Regions from separate parts of the Homo sapiens genome. Here regions 2 and 3 are each reported to be linked to region 1. Evidence: microRNA targets listed by miRTarBase, many of them from high-throughput screens and not tested one by one. Region 1 holds a microRNA gene; each other region holds the end of a gene's coding sequence.

Region 1 (7,200 bases):
CCAGAGAGATATGACATATATGATTTTAACTTCATCTCCTTGAAAATTAAAATAGTAACAATGTTTAGTTTATCCTTTTGTTACCAATTCCTTGCAGCTGTAGGTCCGAGAAATGGCCAACTTCAGCAGTAACAATTACCATATTAAATGTTGCTCTGTGTGAAGGGATCTGGACAAGTCACTCTACCTGCATAAATAAAATATACCCAGACTCTACCTTTGTGGCACTTTCATTATATTCGATGACCTCTGTCCCATCACCTGCTTCAGGTTAGGATAAAAGGTATAAACAAGCTGCCACCTGGTGAGATGGCAGGCTTCCCTACAAAAAACAAGAAAGTAATATTCTGCCATTTCCTAAGAACAAGCAGCAATGTCCTGGCTTCAAATGGTCTCTAGAAGTCCATGCACCACCGTGCTTCCACTGGGGCGGTTGTATCACCCAGGAGCATTAGGAATTGTATGGAGGTGGGGTGGGGCACTTTCTGCTTGTCACAGCGATCCGTGGAACAGGACTCTGCTCCAAAGAGAAGTCCAGCCCCATGCGTCAACAGCGCCCCCACTGGTCCACATGGAAGGAACTCCTTAAGTAGCGACACTGTCCTATCAATCTTTATAAAGGAGTCCCTCATTCTTTAGCAGCTGACAGAATGTCTGTAGGTCATTAGACAATGAAAAAAGAAAGAAGAGAGGGAAGGAGTAAAACAAGCAGAGAATAGGGATTATGGACAGTCAAAATCCCAGTTCTGCTACCTGCAAGCAGTGTTGTCCTGGCCAAATGGCTTAACCTCTTTGAAAATATTCATTACTTTTCCCTTTTCTTCCCCATAATCTTGCCAGTTCTGTCTGTATTCAGATGTCTCCTAACTCCAAAGTCTGGCTCTTTTCACACCATAGGAAGTGAGCTGGTAACATGAATGAAGATGAAAGACTAATTGTTTCCTCAGTCTCCATTACTGCACAATTTACAGCACAATTGTACTGTTATCAAGTGAACTTTGGAAACCTGTAGCACAGAGCAAGAGCCGCATACTCCCGGGGACCCAGACTTCCAAGAGTCCTGCAGAGGCAGAAGGGAGGGAGATGAATGAGCTTCTATCTAGGCGAGTCATGTCTACCCGCATCTCTCTGAGGAGGAAAGACTTTACTTCTCAGGATCAACGAGAAGAGATATGAGCTTCCCCCAACTTTTCTTAAGATACATTCCCCCTCCTTCCTGATCCTCCCACCAAGGGTGGCCCCTGGATCACAGTTTGGAAGTCACTGCCCTAAGGATTTCACCAAACAGGCAGTGTGGTAAAGAAGTTTCTAACAGAGGGTGAAGTGCTGTCTCTGGAGGATAAGATACAACCTGCACCCACAGGATGATTCTCATTCTTGGTTCTGGTCTCTGCTTGGGAACCAGCAGGAGAAGAACATGTGGGTTGGCGAGTGGGGGCACTGCAGCTGACACAAAGTAAACCAGCCCTGTTCCAGTCCACTAGGGTTGATTTTTCTTTTTTTCATTGAGACATGATCTTACTCTGTTGCCTGGGCTGGAGTACAGTGGCATGATTATGGCTCACTGCACCTTCAAACTCCTGGGCTCAAGCTATTCTTCCACCTTAGCCTCCCAAATAGCTACAATTGCAGGTGTGCACCACTGGATCCAGCTAATTTTTTTAATTTTTTGAGGAGACAGTGTCTCAATATGTTGCCCAGGCTCATCTCAAACTCCTGGTCTCTAGTGATCCTCCCACCTTGACTTCCCAAAGTGTTGGGATTACTGGTGTGAGCCACTGCACCTGGCCTACGGTTGTTTTTTCTATGTGTATTTTAATTATGTCTCATTGAGAATCATCAAGAATAAAAATAACTTGAAAAATTGGCAAGTTTTCCTATTGCAAGTAAAAAACTCTCATTTTTTAAGGAAAATGAGAGTTTTTTACTTGCCAGAGGAAGTCACTACCAGGAATTTTAATGGTTAAAAAAATTATTTTCTTTTTGCGAAATATTCATGGTTCTTCAACACTCTCTAGACACAACAGCAAGGCTCCCTGGCCCCAGTACTGCAAAACAAACCAAAAAAAAAGTACAGGTCCTTAGTCAGCCCTCAAACACCTCAAGAAGAGGTATATAATTCCATCATGCATCATACCTCTGTGCCTGTTACCTTCACAAAAGGCAACAAAGAACTATAGTCATTCTTCCCTCTATTCTAGTCCCTCAGGCAGGGAATAGGTTGGGTTTTACATCCATGTGCAGTATTATAATTTTATGCGGAAGCAGAGCAGACAAGAGATTGTCAGGTCTGAAATAAAGCAAAATTCTATATGCCTTAACAGTGGGCCCCCTAAATACACAGTCAATATTGTCCTCATATTAAGGTCATTTCTTTCACACAGACATTGAAGGTACTAATCTACTCTGAATGTCAGCTACATTCTTGCAAAAAAAAAAAAAAAAAAAAAGGAAAGGACATTGAATGAGAAAATGCAAGAAGTGTATGTTGCATAGAGCCTAAATCTTAACTGAAGTCCTTCTGTTTTGAGGTACTTGAATCACATTATGTACACCATTCAATACGAAACTCCTAAGTAAAATAACAGGATACCATTTTCAAAATCTTAAAGCAACAAACTACTGATGACTAGAATTAGAAAAGCATGCTTCCAGAAAGGTGACTAAATACACCCCCCCAACACAAAGGGGCAACGGTCAAAGACAAGACTGGAATTGGGCCTTGCGAGCTCTGCCTGGCAACCTTGGCTGTGGAGGCCACAGTGGACAGAGTTACCCACTCTCTTCTGGGCTTGTTCCCACCATCTGTGGGGTGGGTGTATAGGGCTGGGGCTAAGCCAGCTTCAGAAGCCCCCCAACCACCACCACACCATCAAGTCTCTCAAGTGGGACTGCTGTGCTGTGGCACGCACACCCACACACAAGTTGCCAACAGTTTGGAAGTTAGCCCCAGTTTCCAAATATGTCAACCCAAAAGCCATTCAGGTAAATATAAGTGGGAGCCACTACAAAGTGGGACTTTATCAGGCAGATACAGAGAACCAAAAAATGAAGTTGCTGAAAGCTGCTGTGGAGATTTAAGTCTTTTGTTTTTAACGGAGGAAGATAATGAGGCCCAGGAACACAGCTTCCTAGAGTAAGACAGTGTTCCGTCCTGGCCTCCAGGATGTTCAACACCTATCCCAAGCTTCTGAGCATTCTGTCCTCACTGGCTTCTCTCAGTGCTATTTCCAAATAATCTAGATTGCAAGTTATCACAGGCCACATTCCTGAAAAAACACAGAGCAATCCTGCTGACCCACTTCAGGGAAGCCCTTTCATAACAAAGTTACCCAAATCTTCTGGAGGGGTTTAATGAGCCCAGGTTATATATATTTAGTGAGTTTCAAACACTCGCCAGGCACTTTGAAACACAGTTCCTGAATGTAGGTGTTAACTGTAAGGCTGTGAAGGGCAATGATCAAAGACAAAAGCACTTGCTTTCATGATTTAAATAAGACATCCTAACCAGATTTTCTAAATCACTATATACTTCAATGGATACCAAGCACTGAGGTGGGTCCCCTAGGGCAGGGGTCCCCACCTGCTGGCTGCGGAGGGGTCAGTGGCCCATTAGGAACCAGGCCGCACAGCAGGAGGTGAGCAGTAGGCGAGCATTCCCGCCTGAGCTCCACCTCCTGTCAGATTAGCAGCAGCATTAGTTTATCAGAGAAGCCGGAACCCTGTTGTAAACTGAGTATGCAAGGGATGTAGGTTGCCAGCTCCTTAGGACAATCTAATGCCTGATGATCTGAGGTGGAACAGTTTCATCCTGAAACCATCCTCTACCTCCTTCTATGGAAAAACTGTCTTCCACAAAACTAGTCCCTGGTGCTAAAAAGGTTGTGGACTGCTGCCCTAGGGCACTGGCTCTCAAACCTGACTGCTCGTTAGAATCCCCTCAGAATCTTTAAAAAATAGTGATGCCTGGGCCCCACCCCCAGAGATTTTGATTTCATGAGGGATATGGCCTGGGCATTAGTTTTTTAAATACTGATGGTGAGTCTAATATACAACAGTTTGAGAACCACTGCTGTAAGAAACAAACAGAAACATAAAAAGTGGAAACAACTCAAATGATCATCAACTGGATAAATAAAATGTGGTATAGCCATACAATGGAATAGTATGCAGCCATAAAAAGGAATGACGCTATTGATATACGTTGCAACATTTTTAAACCTTGAAAACATATTGCTGTGAAAGAAGCCAGCAACAGAAGGATAAATACTGTATGATTCCATTTACATGCTATTCCATTTACATGATATGTCCAGAATAGGCAAATCCATAGGTACAGAAAATAACTGAGTAGTTACCAGGGGCCAGGAGAGTTGAGGGGAAATGGGAAGTGACTGCTAATGGATATGGGGTTTCTTTTGAGGGTGTTGAAAATTGATTACAGTGATGGTTGCATAACTCTATGAATAAACTACTAAATTCATAGGGTTGCATAACCCTGAATTAGATTAAATGGGTAAATTGTAAGGTACGTAAATTGTATCTTACTTTAAAATACATATATATCTATAAATTCTATCTACTATAGAGGAAAAAAAAACAGATACATAAGTAAGACAAGTATCAACAGAGATTTAAAATGCCATTAGAGAGGATCACCTAAGTAATACAGAAGGTAAACACTATAAACTCAGAGGAGGCATCAAAGCCTAAGTGATCCATATTTTTCTTTTCTTACTCATTTTTCTTCTCTGATTTGAAAAAGCAATAGAGTTCAGAGCTTGTCAGTGTACAGCTGATAATACAGGCCCTAAAGTCTCAGTTCTCACCTTATTTGGAATGGCTATTTAGCATTGTCTTAGAATTAAAAACAAATATTCAGAATACAGGCTGTTGATGGACTGTAATGACTCTCAAGAGTCAATTATCAACAGAGCCTTTGAAAGATGGACTTGGAGGTCAGGCGCAGTGGCTCACGCCTATAATCCCAGCACTTTCGGAGACCAAGGTGGGCACATCACCTGAGGTCGGGATCAGCCTGGCCAACATAGTGAAACTCCATCTCTACTAAAAATACAAAAATTAACCGGGCGTGGCGGCACACACTTGTAATCCCAGCTACTTGGGAGGCTGAGGCAGGAGAATCGCTTGAACTCGGGAGGTGGAGGGTGCAGTGAGCCCAGACTGTACCAATGCACTCCAGCCTGGGTGACCGACTGAGACTCTGTCTCAAAAAAAAAAGACGAACTTGGTGCTGTAAGTCCTACTTATGCCCTGGACTTGTCTTTACTAGTACCAGCAGTTTGGACCAAATAAACTTACATGCTCAAATACACAAAAAGACTTTTAAATACCAGGATTTGCAACACACAGGTATTATAGTACATATGCCGTAAAAACGAATGATTAAACGTGCCTCCCCTACTCAAAGTTCTTAATATACTTAATAATCATAGTTAAGAGTTATTTATTATGGCAGAAACTGACACACAGAAGGCTCAAACTTTAGGTAGCACAGGATTTTGTTTAACAGTCTTGTTTTCATGTCTAGGGTATAGTCTGGTACAAGAAATCCATCTAGGCCAGGCGCGGTGGCTTAAGCTTGTAATCCCAGCACTTTGGGAGGCTGAGGCAGGCGGATCATGAGGTCAGGAGATCGAGATCATCCTGGCTAACACAGTGAAACCCCATCTCTACTAAAAATACAAAAAATTAGCCAGGCGTGGTGGCGGGTGCCTGTAGTACCAGCTACTCGGGAGGCTGGGGCAGGAGAATGGCGTGAACCCGGGAGGTGGAGCTTGCAGTGAGCGGAGATCATGCCACTGCACTCCAGCCTGGGCGACAGAGCAAGACTGCGTCTCAAAAAAAAAAGCCATCTGTATTTCTCCAAGTTTCTGAATGTTAATATTTAATATTATACACTTGAACATATTTTTGCTTTCATTTACAGAAAACATACCATTAGCAATTGAATAAATCTTGGCCTATACCTTAAAGCCCTTTTAATAAATGTTTGTTGGCGCTTATTTAAAAGCAGGTAGCAGTGAAATTTCAATAGCTCCTAGAAATTAGATGATCAAAGAATAAACTCTATTCTCTATTTGTGGCAAACTTATAATGAATATACATTTCTACAGTCAGAGATGAAGACAAGCAGGTTAAAAATGACATCTAGTAAACTTGTCCTCCTCTACCCTGCTGTGCAACATATTTCAGTCAACTTTCAGAAAGTGGCTGGACCAAGCATTTAAATGCCCTGAGGTTGACCTGGACCAACTTTTAGGCAAATCATCCATCAGATCCTATAAGTCCTGCAGCACACTTAATTCAGACAAATAAGACAATAATTCCAAAAACAACTTAACAATAAGGACTAAGAAAGTGTTTAATTTTGAGATGTACTATTCTCAAAGACCCAAGTAAGCTTCAACTAGATAAGAGTTGAGCCCTTATGCTTGCTATAGTTCAGAAGTGCCAAAACATGAGATTAGGGTTGAATTTGCGCCATCAGCTTTCTGCTAGCTGTTTTCAACTCAAATTTTCCCCATTCTGCTCTCTTTCCTTCAGCCTGGTTTAACCCTGTCTGTCACACTCTTCACCATATTCTTACTACCAAACTTATTTTTGAGCACTACTTCAAAACAAAAAGAGCCAATGGAACAGAAGAAATGTACCAAGTAGCAAGGCAAACAAAGGCAAAGACTCCAGTAGCTAAGAGATTTAATTAAGAAAAAAGGCAGTTTCTGAAAAATGTGAGGCAGAATCTTGGACATTGCCAAACATCAGAAATTTTTAAAACTATTATTATATTAAGAAACAGACTGGCGCAGTGGCTCACACCTGTAATCCCAACACTTTGGGAGGCCGAGGCGGGTGGATCACCTGAGGTCAGGAGTTCGAGACCAGCCCAGCCTGGCCAACATGGTAAAACCCCATCTCTACTAAAAATACAAAAATTAGCCGGGCAGTGGGTGCCTATAATCCCAGCTACTCGGGAGGCTGAAGCAGGAGAATCACTTGAACCCGGGAAGTAGAGGCTGCAGTGAGCCAAGATCAGGCCACTGCATTCCAGCCTGGGCAACAGAACAAGACTTCATCTCAAAAAAAAAAAAAAACAAAAAACAAAAAACAGTCCTGCCTTTCTAAATTGAATCCACCGAGGCCTCTGTGTCTTCCTTAAAAGGACCACAGTGGGTACCA
Region 2 (7,200 bases), not on the chromosome of region 1:
TGGCCAACATGGTGAAACCCTATCTCTACTAAAAATACAAAAATTAGCCGGGCATGGTGGTGTGTGCCTGTAATCCCAGCTGCTCCAGAGGCTGAGGCAGGAGAATTGCTTGAACCCGGGAGGCAGAGGTTGCAGTAATCTGAGATCGTGCCACTGCACTACAGCCTAGGTGACAGAGCAAGACTCCATCTCAAAAAAAAAAAAGAAAGAAATATATATGTTAGAAAAAGTCTAAAAAGGAAATTTACAAAGACTACAAGAAGATAGTTCCCTGGAAAAGACAGTGTGATGGTGTGCCAAAAACACCTTTCCTGATCATACACATATAAGTAAACACCCATACCGAGTTCCCCCTGACTCTAGTTAGGAGCTGTCTTTAACCACATTAGTCCCTATTCGGGATCATCAAATTTGGGAAATACCTGTTCCTAGCTTGTTATGAACATTTAAAAATCTTATTTTTTTCCCCTTCAAACTGTGCTTATAATAGATAGCAAAGTGGGGAATAAAAGTCTAACTACAAGCTTATTAATTTGAAGTAATAGGACTTACTGCTTTCAGTAATGTCACTGTCATCCATCAGACTATTTCACCTCAATTTCATTTTCTCCCTCAGGTGTTTCAAGAATAAGGGGTTGGTTCCCTAGAAAATGTGTGGAAAAGTGTCCCTGTGATGCTGAAACAGATCAAGCCCCAGAGGGGGAGAAGAAAAATAGATAGCTGCTGTTAAAACAAAATTATCCTTTAAGTCTGCTTAATTACTTGAAAATTGTACATATTACTAAAGAATTATGCAATGAGCCTACTCTGGTTAAGATGTTCTTTTCCTCAAAGGTGCCCTAGTGCCATGATTTAAATATTTTTATTACCATTTTGAAATGGAGAAGCCATTCTGCATATGCCTTTGAATTCCTGCCCCTCTTTACCACCTCTTCCTCCCCCTCAAAGGAAAAACATTTCATCCAAGTAAGTTAACGGCATTTTCTGTAGGATTTTCTTATGCACTGCACACTCTGGACCTCACCTGCAGATACAGTTCCCCCCTTGCCAGGAGCATCTGCATGTGGTACTTCTCTTTTCCCTCAGTTGATATTTCTTATATGATATTCTAGATACTATAGAACTCAATTTGTCAGATTCAGTATAACCTCAGATTTTGTTACCTGTCTTTTAAAAATGCAGATTTTGTCAAATCAAATAAAGATCAATGGATGTTGGGTATAATCAGTTTTTACTTAAAGCATTTTTCTTTTTGCTGACTAAAAAGGTTCATCTTAGTTCCTTATGGAAAAACTGCTCTGCTGCCCTGTGGACAACTGGCATCTTAAAACGTGGCTTAAGACATGACACACTTGCTTCAAGATATTAACCCTATTAATGGGATATTGCGGTCATAGTGATGGCAGCGGATGGCAGTGGTGGCCTGAGGGGTGTTGAGGGGGAGCCGTGATAGGCAGGAGCCAAGCGTAGCTACAGCTGTCCAGCCGTGGCTGCGGACCCGGGCATCCTTGTGCTCTAGGGGGCCGAGGGGAAATACCCCCCCCACACCCCCCCCCCAACAACTGCTTGGCCTCTTCCTGCTCCTGGCACTCGCTCTGGAGCAAAGGTGAGGCCAAGCCCGGGTGCTGTGAGGACCTGGCCAGGTGTACGTGAGCTCTGAGTGGTGCTGACACCAGCGCCCTGCCGCCTAGGCCCCCTCTGGACTTTGGGCTGCCAGCCACAGAGGATTCCAGCTGGGGAAGCAACACCCCAAGGATCCCGTGGCAGTAGTGTTCTAGACTTTAAACATAGTGATATCAAACTACTCATGTACCCTTGAGTAAAAAGCTGAAGCTTGTGTGAGTGGTAGGATCCAAGCTGGTGGGCTTGGATGCTTAAATTGGGCTTGTCTAAACATAACAGTGGAATCACAGAAGGAAAGAGAAAGCCTATTTCTCTGGACTTCAGAAACCTTTCCAAGGCAGGGAATGTGAAGCTTTGGGGGCCAGGCCTGTAATAGTTGAGGATAAGGGAAGAGCACTTGGGAATTCAGCAGTGAACAGACAGGTAAAATATATGTAAGATGGAGTCATGTTATTGTGAAGCAAGAAGGTAGGACAGTCTTGAGTTGGCATTTGAAGCAGATGAGGGGACAAGTCATGTGCTTTGGGATATTTGCATTTTAGAGACAGCAGCAAGAACAAAAACAGGCTGGACCTGTGTCTGACACGTTTGAGAAACAGGAAGGTAACTAGTGAGGTTCAGCTGTAATGCGTGAGGGGAGAATAGGAAAGGAAGTGAAGGCGAGAAAGTTAAAGTGATAATGGGAGCTAGACTTTAAAAGTTAATTCCTGCCTACCCTTTTGTTTCAGATCCTTAAGAATAGATATTTCTTTGGCTTTTCTGGGCTCAAAATCTAGAAAGACCATCCAAGAACATTCTCTTTAACTCCAGTTGGAGGCCAGAAAAGAATACTATTAATATTCAAGATTATAATTAGAGTACAACAAAGATGGTAAAAGAATGGATATGACTTGTGCTCAGTTGGAGTTTTGGCTCAGCTGGTATTTGTTTTATTCTTTACAGCTATGGGATAAGAAGGTTTGGTCTTCAGAACTTACTTTTCTTCACTAACCTGTTCGCAGACTAGAATCATCTGTGGGTCTTCTTAACAATCTCAGTGCCCAGGCTGTATCCGGCCATTTAAGCCAGAATCCCTGGAGTGGCAACCAGGCATTAGTGGTTTTTTTGTTTTGTTTTTGTTTTTTTTTTTTGAGACAGAGTCTCACACTTTCACCCAGGCTGGAATGCAGTGGTGCGATCTCGGCTCGCTGCAAGCTCCGCCTCTCGGGTTCATGCCATTCTCCTGCCTCAATCTTCTGAGTAGCTGGGACTACAGGTGCCCGCCACCACGCCCAGCTAGTTTTTTGTATTTTTAGTAGAGATGGGGTTTCACCATAGTAGCCAGGATGTTCTCGGTCTCCTGACCTCATGATCCGTCCGCCTCGGCCTCCCAAAGTGCTGGGCATTAGTGTCTTTTTAAACTTCCTAGATAATTCTATTGTGTACCCAAGTTTAAGAACAGATACTGTACTTGATTTTTAAGGGGTCCTTGTTTAAGACTGATTTTCATCATGGTCCATGAGGAAAGAAACACCACAACGTAAGTATCTGTAATAGTTTATTTTAAAGACTTTACATTTACAAGTAGAAACAACATGTGTTATCTGTGGGTAAGGTAGAGCAGGAACTCTAATCCAAGGGTGGGGGAGATCAGTTGGTTCCTTCACAGAAAATAAGCCTGTTGTGTGGGCATCTTGCTTGCCTGTAGATCTTTGTTCCCAGTTCAGGAGGTTTTTATTCAGTGCTTGCTTCATTTACTGGAAAAGTTCACTGGGCCCACCTGTCAACTCCTTCCCCCACAGCTTCCAGCTCAGCAGCAAACTGTAGGGAACAGATTTACTCCCCAGTTCCTACTGTAAATAATGCTTTAAGAACAGCATTCCTTTTGGACAATATGTCATAGACCCAATTTTTAATACTCCCAAGTCAGATATCTAACTAGAGAGTTTAGGAAATGTTTGGTATGATCAAACTTTTCCCTTCAGTACACAATTTAATTTACGCAGAAGAGCATCGGAGACATTTGTCTCATAGATATGATTGACATGAGTGATAGGCTAAAACTAAAATTTTAGTGGTTTGTGGAGTGGCTAGAAAACATGAATTGTAAGCAGTTTTTCAGAATTTAAAAATCTCTTAGTTTGAACAGTAGAAGATGTAAATAAGCATAGAGACTGTTGGCAAGTTATGTTTATCACAAAACAAAGAAGAAGGCACAGAGGGTCCCTTTGACCCTTGAACTTGTGGTTACTAATAGTATTAAGGTTGGAAATCATGAGGAAGGACACAGAACATAAACTGGGATCTTGAAGACAGGCATGTTGATAAAAGTAGCCCTGAAGCCTTAATATTAGCAACATCGAAGATGGGAAAGACAGGATTGATTTATTTGGGAACTAAGTTTACACATTATATGTCTCAATATAAAACAAAAGCTATGGCTTTAGAGTTTAACAGGTTAAAAAAAAATAGGAGGAAAGGCAAAACAAATGTAAGAATAGTTTTTAATCCATTTTCTCACAAGCAGTGCACAGTGGGCCGGCAGGTACTTAAGTACCTTATCCTAATCCTGGATGTGCTCATACAGGCTGTCAATTTGGGTCCGAAAGTATTTGGAAAGCTCTCCTCGCTTTGCTTTCAATGTTGGTGTCAAGAGCCCATTTTCAATGGAAAATGGCTCTGGATGAAGAAAAATGGCTTTGACCTGGAAGATGAACACACACACATCCATGCTCATTAGTGATTTGGACTTCTCTGCAGAGCCCCCTGAGTGCTCTGTGAAGAAAGTGAGGTTGATGCAGTGAAAGGGTAAAGGTAACAGTAACACATGCCCATTCCCACAAACATAATTTAAGAAAGTAATGAGTAGGGAGAAGGGAGAATGGACAATAAACAGCAAAAAAAGGGCGCTGTACAAGTAACTACAAAAGGTCATTTTGTAGTTAATGGCACAAAATCTAAAATCAATTCCTTAGAAATTATACATTTAAACCTCATTAGATGGAAACTTTAAACAAAACTTTCTGACAAGAGGCCAGTATAACATCAGTGGTAGCACACACCTGTTCAAAAGTTTTAAGGCCACTTTCTTTCCCAATTTTCTGCAAGTCTTCTAAAATGGCTTCCCTTACAACCTAAGAATACAAAACATCACTTAAAGCATGGCTGTTTCAAAAAGCCTGAAGGGCTAAGCATGAACCAACTCAAAGTGCCTGTCAAAGCCATGCAGTATGAAAGCAGGAATATAAAACTATGCACAAGCACATTATATGCCCAATATTGAAAGAAAAACTGAGAAGAAAAGGCACATCTAAGTGTTAACAGTTTTCTCTGAATAGCATTTTTACTCTTCTTTCCCAATCTTTTCCCACAATGAACATATTATTTTAAATAGAAAAGAGAGTTTTATTTTTTAAACTCTCCATCCTATCCCCGAGTCCCATAAAACTATTCAGTCTGTTTGGGCTGCAGCCACTTGTGACAGATGCAGGAACTGGTGAGGCATCCTCTCCTCCACGATGGGCCCATGGGTGTGCATAAAGCTTTCCTAGGCAAGACTTACTTGGTTTTGGCACAGTTCCTCAAAGGAGCCCTTCACCCCAAGCTTGGCTGCAAATGAGGGAAGTACATCTGTGTCAGGAACCACCACTCCTACTAAGGATGACTATGGAAAGGAAATAAAAGGTGCAAGGGCATGAGAGAAGTTATGTAGGGATGTCCCCCAGTAGTTAAATAAAGCAGAATTATGTCATTGTAATAGTTATTTCCCCAAAACCTTAAATCCAGTACTAGTGTTCTTTTCTCACCATATATTTTCAACACCATGGAACTGTAATCCCATTTTCCCACTCAATATCTCATTACAAAGATGTTCCATTCAAATCTGATCCTTCAACATTAAGCTTAAAGCGCCTCTGGCTTGTCCATGTCAACTCTCCCCTTGTCCCCTAAAAGCTACATTTAAGCACAGTGTGTATAAAACAGTTCGTTGTTTTGGGATAAGGAGTTCCTTAAAGCTACGTTTAAGCATAGTATGTATAAAACAACAGTTTGTTGATCAAACTTTTGTTTGTTGCTTTATATATATTGCAACAGTTTGTTGTTTTATACATACTGCTCTTAAACATAGCTTTAAGGAACTCCTTAAGGAATGGGAACTAAGTGCAATGTGGAGCTCATTTTTTACTGAATCATTACCTTTTAGTATAGCCATTCTAAACAATTCTACTGACTTGTGTACAACGTCCATCATAGTTTTGAAATTTTTTAAATTGAAATTGCCTTATTTGAGGTTTGGAATGTAACTTCATTTTTTTTTTTTTTTTTAGTTTTATAAGCTTGGATCTTCTCATTCTGAACCCAACTATACAAATTTCCTGTAGCTACAAGAACCAGCATGGTTTGTGACTGAAATGGGCTATTGTTAAAATGATATATTACCCGTAAGCTCTCCCCGTGTACAAAAATTTGTAACACTGGTTGACTCCTGTTGTAGATATTTTCTATCTTCTCTGGTGCAATGTATTCTCCTTGGGCCAGCTTGAAAATGTTCTTTTTACGGTCGATGATCTTCAGAGTTCCATTCTACATGAGACAGATAAAAGTATCAGTATTTTTGAGCCACAGAGATGATATCAGTGGGGAGAGTGGTGAAGTCACAGTCATCTTTCTTCTCTAAAGCTGATTTCTCCAGAGACTTTTGAGCTGTCTTTCATTTCTCTTTCTTGGCTTTGGTGAAAGGGGAGGGAAGCATCGTGCAGCAAGAACCTGTCTTTACTGTATATCTATGTGGAGAGTCAATGCGCAGCCTTAGAGAAAGTCTCCTGGATCTACTGGAGTTATGCAAATTGATGCCTCATCCAAGGAAGAAATTGCACAGCTCTCAATTTCCAATCACTAATTTCCAATTAGTTCATTTTCAGAACTCTCAGAAATAGAGGTGTTGTCTTTTGTTTAGACTTTTGATTTGATTTGAATAGTTCTCCCACCACTTGACTCCCTGTTATGTTTTCCTCCTTGTTAGATCCGGGAGCAGGCTCAAACAGCTCCACTGTGCTAATCAAGCAACTCAATTACTGGGCTTGTTAGGACAGCAACAGGGCTGAGAGGACTCTGACCAGCCACCAAAGGTCATTTGCAGCTTCATTTCTCTGAACTAATTGGTCTGAGGAGCTTAGGTCTTTAGGGATTTGAATTGTAGAATTGGGACAAATGGCAAATAAAATCCACATGCTAACACCCTAAGTAGGGCGACTAACTAAACCAACACTGGAACTATCACAAGGCCGACTTGATAAATTAGCCATCAATTCAGCCTAACGTTCATTATCTGAAAGTGATTAATAAGGTGCAGCCTTCTATAACCCTGGTGTGGGGACATATCTGTTGCTTACATCCTAGGCTTATTAGAGTGTTATTTAATTCTGTTACTAGACAGAAACAAATATATTAGCAAGATACTACCAAACCCAAATCAATAAAATGCATCGTTAGGACCAGTGTTCTTAAAAGTTACATTGTCAAGCATTCCTTAAATCTCACTTAAATCTTAAATATTGATTGAGCAAGAAAGGAGTTTTAAGTTCTAGTGACATTCCC
Region 3 (7,200 bases), not on the chromosome of region 1:
ACCAGCTGATCCATACCGGTGAGAAACCATACAAATGTGAAGAGTGCGGAAAGGGATTTAGTCGTAGAGCAGATCTTAAAATTCATTGTAGGATCCACACAGGGGAGAAACCATATAATTGTGAGGAGTGTGGGAAGGTCTTCAGTCAGGCCTCGCATCTTCTAACCCATCAGAGAGTTCACAGTGGGGAAAAACCATTTAAATGTGAAGAGTGTGGGAAGAGCTTCAGTCGGAGTGCACACCTTCAAGCCCATCAAAAAGTCCACACTGGAGAAAAGCCATACAAATGTGGGGAGTGTGGAAAGGGCTTCAAGTGGAGCTTGAACCTTGACATGCATCAGAGGGTGCACACAGGAGAAAAACCCTATACATGTGGGGAGTGTGGGAAGCACTTCAGTCAGGCCTCAAGTCTCCAACTTCATCAGAGTGTCCACACAGGAGAGAAACCATACAAATGTGATGTATGTGGTAAAGTCTTCAGTCGGTCTTCACAATTACAGTATCATAGGCGAGTTCACACTGGGGAAAAACCTTACAAATGTGAGATATGTGGTAAGAGGTTCAGCTGGCGATCAAATCTTGTAAGTCATCACAAAATTCATGCTGCTGGTACATTTTATGAAAATGATGAGAATAGTAAGAACATCAGAGAGTTGTCAGAGGGAGGAAGTTCTACAAGGTGATTAAAAAAAAAAAAACAGAACTCATGTACAACCTGAATGCTTGTAATTAGATTTCATAGGAGGGAAAAATTTTCTTTATCAACCTCTTTGAATTTATTTGATTTGTAACGCTCCACATTTCCACCTAGACTTTTTTTTGTTTTTTATTTTTTGTTTTGAAACAGAATCTCGCTCTGTTGCCCATGCTGGATGCAGTGGTGCTATCTCAGCTCACTGTAACCTCCACTTCCCGGGTTCAAGTGATTCTCCTGCCTCAGTGGATTACAGGTGCACACCACCACGCCTGGCTAATTTTTGTATTTTTAGTAGAGATGGAGTTTCACCATACTGGCCAGGCTGGTCTCAAACTCCTGACCTCATGTGATCCACCCACCTCGGCCTCCCAAAGTGCTGGGATTACAGGCATGAGCCACCGCCCCTGGCCTCCATCTAGACTTTGAAATGATTGCCTTCTAATTACAGTAGCATTCTCTTATTTAAAATATTTGTTTTATTTAAGTCAGTGTTTAAGCAATAGCTCAGCATATCCCAGTGGTCCAGTGACCACACAGCTGAGAACCCTTGTTAAGTGGTACAGTAAAGCATTCTGTCAAAACTTTGACATTTATGACATGTTACCTAGGAAATAGGACTTAGAAAATGAGTTTGACCTGGGCTTTAAAAAAGTATACTGATGAAGGTGCCAGAATTGATGTCCATTAGACTGTAAGCTCCATGGGGGCAGGAACTTTGCTACCGAATCTATACAACCTTAACATTGACTAGTGCTTGTAGGTGTGCTCAATACTTGTTTGTTAACTGAATCAAAAGGAGTAAATGCACAATATTTGAACATTGTATCCAAAGGAAGAAACCTGCGAAATAAAATTATTTGCAGAAATGAACATTTGTTGAAATGCAGAAAACCACTGGATACTGCAGCCTACAATATTAATATGATATTACTCTTTTACAGTTGACACCTGTCCTCTCTGTAGTCTCTTCTCTCAAATTTGGTTCTTATTGAGAGCCTGTCTAGTTTCCCAAAGGTTTTATAAAACATAAGTTGAAGTACCTTTATTTTTAATTTTATTTTTGAGACAGGACCTCGCTCTGTCACCGAGGCTGGAGTGCAGTGGCATAATCATGGCTCACTGCAGCCTCGTCCTCCCAGGCTCCATCCATCTGCCCATCTCTCCCTCTGAGTAGCTGGGACCACGGGCACGTGCCACCACACCCAGCTAATTTTTGTATGTTTGGTAGAGAAAGGGTTTCACCACATTGCCCAGGCTGGTCTTGAACACCTGAGCTCAAGCAATCCAACCTCCTTGGCCTCCCAGTGTTAAATTACAGGCGTAAGCCACCACACCCGGCCAAGTTGAAGTATATTTTGTGATTTTTCTGACAGTGCAGACTGAAAAAAATTTAATTAACCTGACAAGAGTTTACTGAATATCACACAATTGAGTTTTTAATCCATTAATGTTAAGGCAGGGGTTTACTCTAACACTTTTAAAGTGTCAGAAGTAGTTGCCAATGCCAAATTTTTATCAGCCCCCTTGAATTTATTTGATTTCTGACTTTCCACATTTCCATCCAGACTTTGACATGATTGCCGTCTAATAACTGTAGCATTCTCTTATTAAAACTTCTGGCTGGGTGTGGTGGCTCATGCCTGTAACCCCAGCACTTTAGGAGGCCAAGGCAGGTGAATCACCTGAGGTCAGGACTTAGAGACCAGCCTGACCAACATGGTGAAACCCCATCTCTACTAAATACAAAAATTAGCTGGGCATGGTGGCAGGCGCCTGTAATCCCAGCTACTCAGGAGGCTGAGGCAGGAGGATTGCTTGAACCCGGGAGGCGGAAGTTGCAGTGAGCCGAGACTGCGCCATTGCACTCCAGCTTGGGTGACAGAGCAAGACTCCGTCTCAAAAAAAAAAAAAAAAACTTCTGAGGTAGGGGCTGTACCATATTTTTGCCCCACACCCATTAAGCGAATACCAAAAACAACTTGTGGAAATTTGATAATTTTATCAAATTTATTATTTGGGCAGGATTGGCATTTACCATGCTTTTCCCTATTGCTGGCAGTAAAACATGGGTTTAAGGAAGAGTGTTTTTCAGAATTTACACTGTATATCTCTGATTTGGAAGTTATATAATTGGAATTTATGATTATGAGATTAAAATACCAAAAAGACTAAGTAACATATCAGTGATGTCAATGAATTGTTTTAAATGGAAGTGTGTGTTCCTCTATAATAATTTGACTTTTGATATTTTCATTCCTGTATTGACCTGAAGCTATTAAAATGGCGGCAGGTATCTGTAATGACAGGATAAAGAAAAAATATGGGCTTTGGAAGATCATAGACTATTGCCTTTGTAGCATAATGAAATCTATACATTTTTATGAGTGAGTGTGTATGTACATGCATAAGATAATATGTAAAGGATACTTTTTTTTTTTTAGCAATTTTCTCTTGCAATGAGCATTTTGTGGTATTTTTCCATTTTATAATTCCATAAATTACATTTTAATTTCTTATTGAACATCAGTATTACCAAAGCAGTAAATTATGTACATTAGAATTTTAAAAAGTGCTATATGATAATCCCTTCAAAATATGATTGTTCTATATTGTTATATGGCACATAAGATCATAATTAATAGATTCTGGAAGCCAATTTTAAAAACAAAAAAATTCTCTGAATATGTGGATAAATGGATGAGTGTGAACAATTGTATCTTTGCAATTAATGTCTGCTACACTTCTTTTTTTTTTTTGAGATGGAGTCTTTCTCTGTTGCCCAGGCTGGAGTGCAGTGGTGCAATCTTGAATCACTGCAACCTCCGCCTCGCGAATTCAAATGATTATCCTGCCTCAGCCTCCTGAGTAGCTGGGATTACAGGGGCGTGCCACTATGTCCAACTCAGTTTTTTTTTTTTTTTTTTCCCCGAGACGGAATCTCACTCTGTTGCCAGGCTGGAGTGCAGTGGCGCAATCTCAGCTCACTGCAACCTCTGCCTCCCAAGTTCAAGCAATTCTCCTGCCTCAGCCTGCTGAGTAGCTGGGACTACAGGTGTGCACCACCACGCCCAGCTAATTTTTGTATTTTCAGTAGAGACGGGGTTTCACCATGTTGGCCAGGATGGTCTCGATCTCTTGACCTTGTGATCCGCCCTCGGCCTCCCAAAGTGCTGGGATTACAGGTGTGAACCACCGTGCCTGGCCTAAATTTTGTATTTTTAGTACAGACGAGGTTTCACCATGTTGGCCAGGCTGGTCTCGAGCTCCTGACCTCAAGTGATCTGCCCGCCTCGGCCTCTCAAAGTGCTGGGATTACAGGCATGATCCACTGTGCCCGGCCTTGCTTGCTACATTTTTTAAAGCATTAATCTGTAACACAGAGAGAATCCTGGAAATGAAAACAAAGTGGTATACATATGTTAGGGAGGTATGTTTAAAAAGGTTCACTGAGGAAAAAGTGTGCATAAGAGCAGAATATAGTGCAATCCACTTACTGGATGTGGAACCAGTAAGGACAAAGAGTGGGTTTGAATGACATTCCATATTCCTTGGACATGATGGTGATATTTTCAGTGTAGTTGATTAAAGCATGGGTCCCTAACCCCTAGGCCACAGACCCTGTTAGGAACAGGGCCAGACAGCAAGAGGTGAGCAGTGGGCAAGTGAGCAAAGCTGAGTTCTGCCTTCTGTCAGATCAGTGGCATGAACCCTATTGTGAACTACGCATGTGAAGGATCTAGGTTGCAGCCAGGCGCAGTGGCTCATGCCTTTAATCTCAGCACTTTGGGAGGCTGAGGTGGGCGGATCACCTGAGGTCACGAGTTGGAAACCAGCCTGGCCAATATAGTGAAACCCCATCTGTACTAAAAATACAAAAATTAGCCAGGCATGGTGGCAGGTGCCTGTAATCCCAGCTACTTGGGAGACTGAGGCAGGAGAATCACTTGAACGCAGGAGATAGAAGTTGCAGTGAGCCGAGGTTGCGCCATTGCACTCCAGCCTGGGCAACAAGAGCGAAACTCTTTTTTTTTTTTTAAAGAAAGGATCTAAGTTGCTCGCTCCTTGTGAAAATAAAATGATAAATGTAATGTGCTTGAATCATCCCCAAACCATCCCCATCCCCCCACCTCACCTTGTGGAAAAATATTGTCTTCTGCAAAGCTGGTCCCCTGTGCCAAAAAGGTTGTGAACTGCTGGATTAAAGGGCTTTACTCAATAAATTATATCTAACTGGGGAGACTTTTTTCCACTATTGATTTTCTTCAGTATACCTTCACTGGATGCTTGCTACTCATTAAGGTCCATGCTACCTCAATGTGCATGGTATGCTGGGGATTGATAATACCACCTTCACATTCTTGTAATTCACTAGGAGGACTCAAGACACCCTATGTTATCATAGTCACTATGATTTATTGTAGTAAAAGATACCAAGTCAGTTGAGCAAAGGGAAAATGTGCATGGGATGAAGTCCAGAAGAAATCAGGTACAGGCTTCCAATAATCCACTCCCTGTAGAATCATTCATGATGTACTGTTTTTTCAGCATTGAAACATGTGAAATGTCTACCCAGTAAGCTCAATGGAGACTTAGTGCCCTAGGCACTACGTTGTGTTTTGTTTTGGAACTGGTCACATAGGCCAGCTTGGGCCAAAATTCTAGATTCCCAGAAGGAATTCAGCATAAATCACATTATACAAATAGCCGGGGCATGGTGAGCCACTCTCATCAGAGAATTGTGGAAATCCTCCTGAAATTCAAGTTCCCAGATACCAGTCAAGGGCTAACCTTATATCTTGCGCTGCTATAACAGAATACCACAGATTAGGTAATTTATAAACAATATAAATTTATCTGTCATAGTGCTTGAGGCTGGGAAGTCCAAGGTCAAGATGCTGGCAGGTTTAACATCTGGTGAGGGCTGCTGCTGTCTGCTTCCAATATGGCATCCAGTTGCTGCATCCTCTGGAGGAGACAGATGCTATGTCCTCATATGGTGGAAGTGATGAAAAAGCAAGAAGGGATTAAGTTTTAACAAGGGAACACCATCAAACTATAGCATGTTGCAAGCAGGCCTTTTAAGTACAACAGTCTCAGGCCTATGTTAACTCTTTTCTGAACAAAGGGCTTCAGAAATCCAGTACCTATATTCTTTTCTTTCTTTTTCTTTCTTTGTATCACCAGATACCACATTAGGTCATCTTCCTTCAAGGTAATTTGTAACCAAAACCAGTAGACTAAACCAAATAATTTCTTGCCCCTCTGCCCCATAACTGATAAGACTGTAGGTACAGTCTACATCTACCCTCCTCATGACCAGAGTTTTCAGGTTAGTCACAAGACAGCTGTAGAAGCTGGGAGCTATCTGGCTTTGTTTTTGGTTGGTTGTTGTTTGTTCACAGTCAAGAGGAGAGAACTGTTTCATTTGTAATATTGTATAGTTCATGTCTCCCAAAATGCATGGCTACTCTAACTCCCATTCACACACAAGATTAATTCCTTAGCTCTTACCTAGTATGCCCAGCCCTTGTGGGATCATTCAGTTTTTTCATCTGTGGGCCTAACTTGCCTGTTCATCTTTGGCCGTTGGGATTTCCCTGTCTTAGCTTTGAGTTTAGCTACATTTTAACGCTTTAGGGGATATTGTCACATAACATTTTTCTATCTTTGAAAAGATCCACAATATTATGTAATGATTACCACTATCTAATCCTAGAACTCTTTCATCTGCTCCCAAAAGAAATCCCCTACATGAGCTGGGTGTGGTGGTGCATGCCTGTAGTCTCAACTACCCAGGGGGCTGAGGCGGGAGGATCACTTGAGCCCAAGAATTTAAGGCTGCAGTGTGCTATGATCATGCCTGTGAATAGCCACTGTACTCCATTCTGGGAAACATAACAAGACGCTGTCTCTAAAAAAGTAAGAAAAAAAAAACCCTACATATTGACAGTCACTCCCCATTCCCAACTACATCTCCCCAGCCTTGGAGACAACTAATTTACTTTCTGTCTCTATGGACTTGCCTATTCTGCACATTTGATATAAATGGAATCATACCATATATGGTATCTTGTGTCTGGCTTCTTTCATTGGACATAATGTCTTCAGAGTTCATCTATGTTATAACATGAATCAATATTTTGTTCATTCACATTACTAAATAATATTGCATTATATGGCTAGACCACATTTTGTTTATCCACTCATCAGCTGATGGACATTGGGTCTTCTCCACTTTTTGACTATTATGACTAATGCTGCTATGAACTTTTTTAGAACAAGTTTTTGTGTGGATATCTTTCAGTTCTCCTGGGTATTTACTTAGGAGTGAAATTGCTGGCACATAAGCCCCAGATCGGGTGCCAGCAGATTCAGTGTCTGGTGAGGTCCCGCTTTCTAAGTCATACATGGTCCTTCTGGCTGTGTCCTCACATAACTAAAGAGGCAAAGGAGCTCCCTCAGGCCACTTATAAGAGAGCATTAATCCTATTCATGAGGGCATT

Evidence for each region. Region 1 holds the annotated microRNA hsa-miR-3128 (UCUGGCAAGUAAAAAACUCUCAU, at 1,914-1,936, opposite strand). A microRNA usually pairs through its seed, bases 2 to 8, with sites in the 3' UTR of a target mRNA and lowers its output. Matches are read on the target gene's strand: a 7mer-m8 pairs with bases 2 to 8, a 7mer-A1 pairs with bases 2 to 7 and ends in A, and an 8mer does both.
Region 2: miRTarBase lists ZDHHC6 as a target of hsa-miR-3128. Seed matches in the 3' UTR shown: 7mer-m8 at 1,045-1,051.
Region 3: the mRNA of ZNF234 is a reported target of hsa-miR-3128. Seed matches in the 3' UTR shown: 7mer-A1 at 1,364-1,370.

What each region holds. Positions count from the first base shown.
Region 1 is chr2:177,254,071-177,261,270 of GRCh38, forward strand. MIR3128 (microRNA 3128) reads right to left here and starts at 1,940; the gene lies at 1,875-1,940. All of the region lies in intron 1 of NFE2L2 (NFE2 like bZIP transcription factor 2), which reads right to left. RefSeq lists a silencer at 2,931-3,225.
Region 2 is chr10:112,424,324-112,431,523 of GRCh38, reverse strand. It overlaps ZDHHC6 (zDHHC palmitoyltransferase 6), which reads left to right. Exons shown (of 11, transcript NM_022494.3): 11 at 617-1,224. The coding sequence ends at 720. It overlaps ACSL5 (acyl-CoA synthetase long chain family member 5), which reads right to left. Exons shown (of 21, transcript NM_203379.2): 18 at 6,043-6,186; 19 at 5,165-5,266; 20 at 4,665-4,736; 21 at 3,148-4,306. The coding sequence ends at 4,166. Among named protein-coding and RNA genes, the nearest start is that of ZDHHC6, 19 kb to the left of the region's middle.
Region 3 is chr19:44,157,437-44,164,636 of GRCh38, forward strand. ZNF234 (zinc finger protein 234) reads left to right here. Exons shown (of 6, transcript NM_006630.3): 6 at 1-2,877. The coding sequence ends at 683. Among named protein-coding and RNA genes, the nearest start is that of ZNF226, 4.1 kb to the right of the region's middle.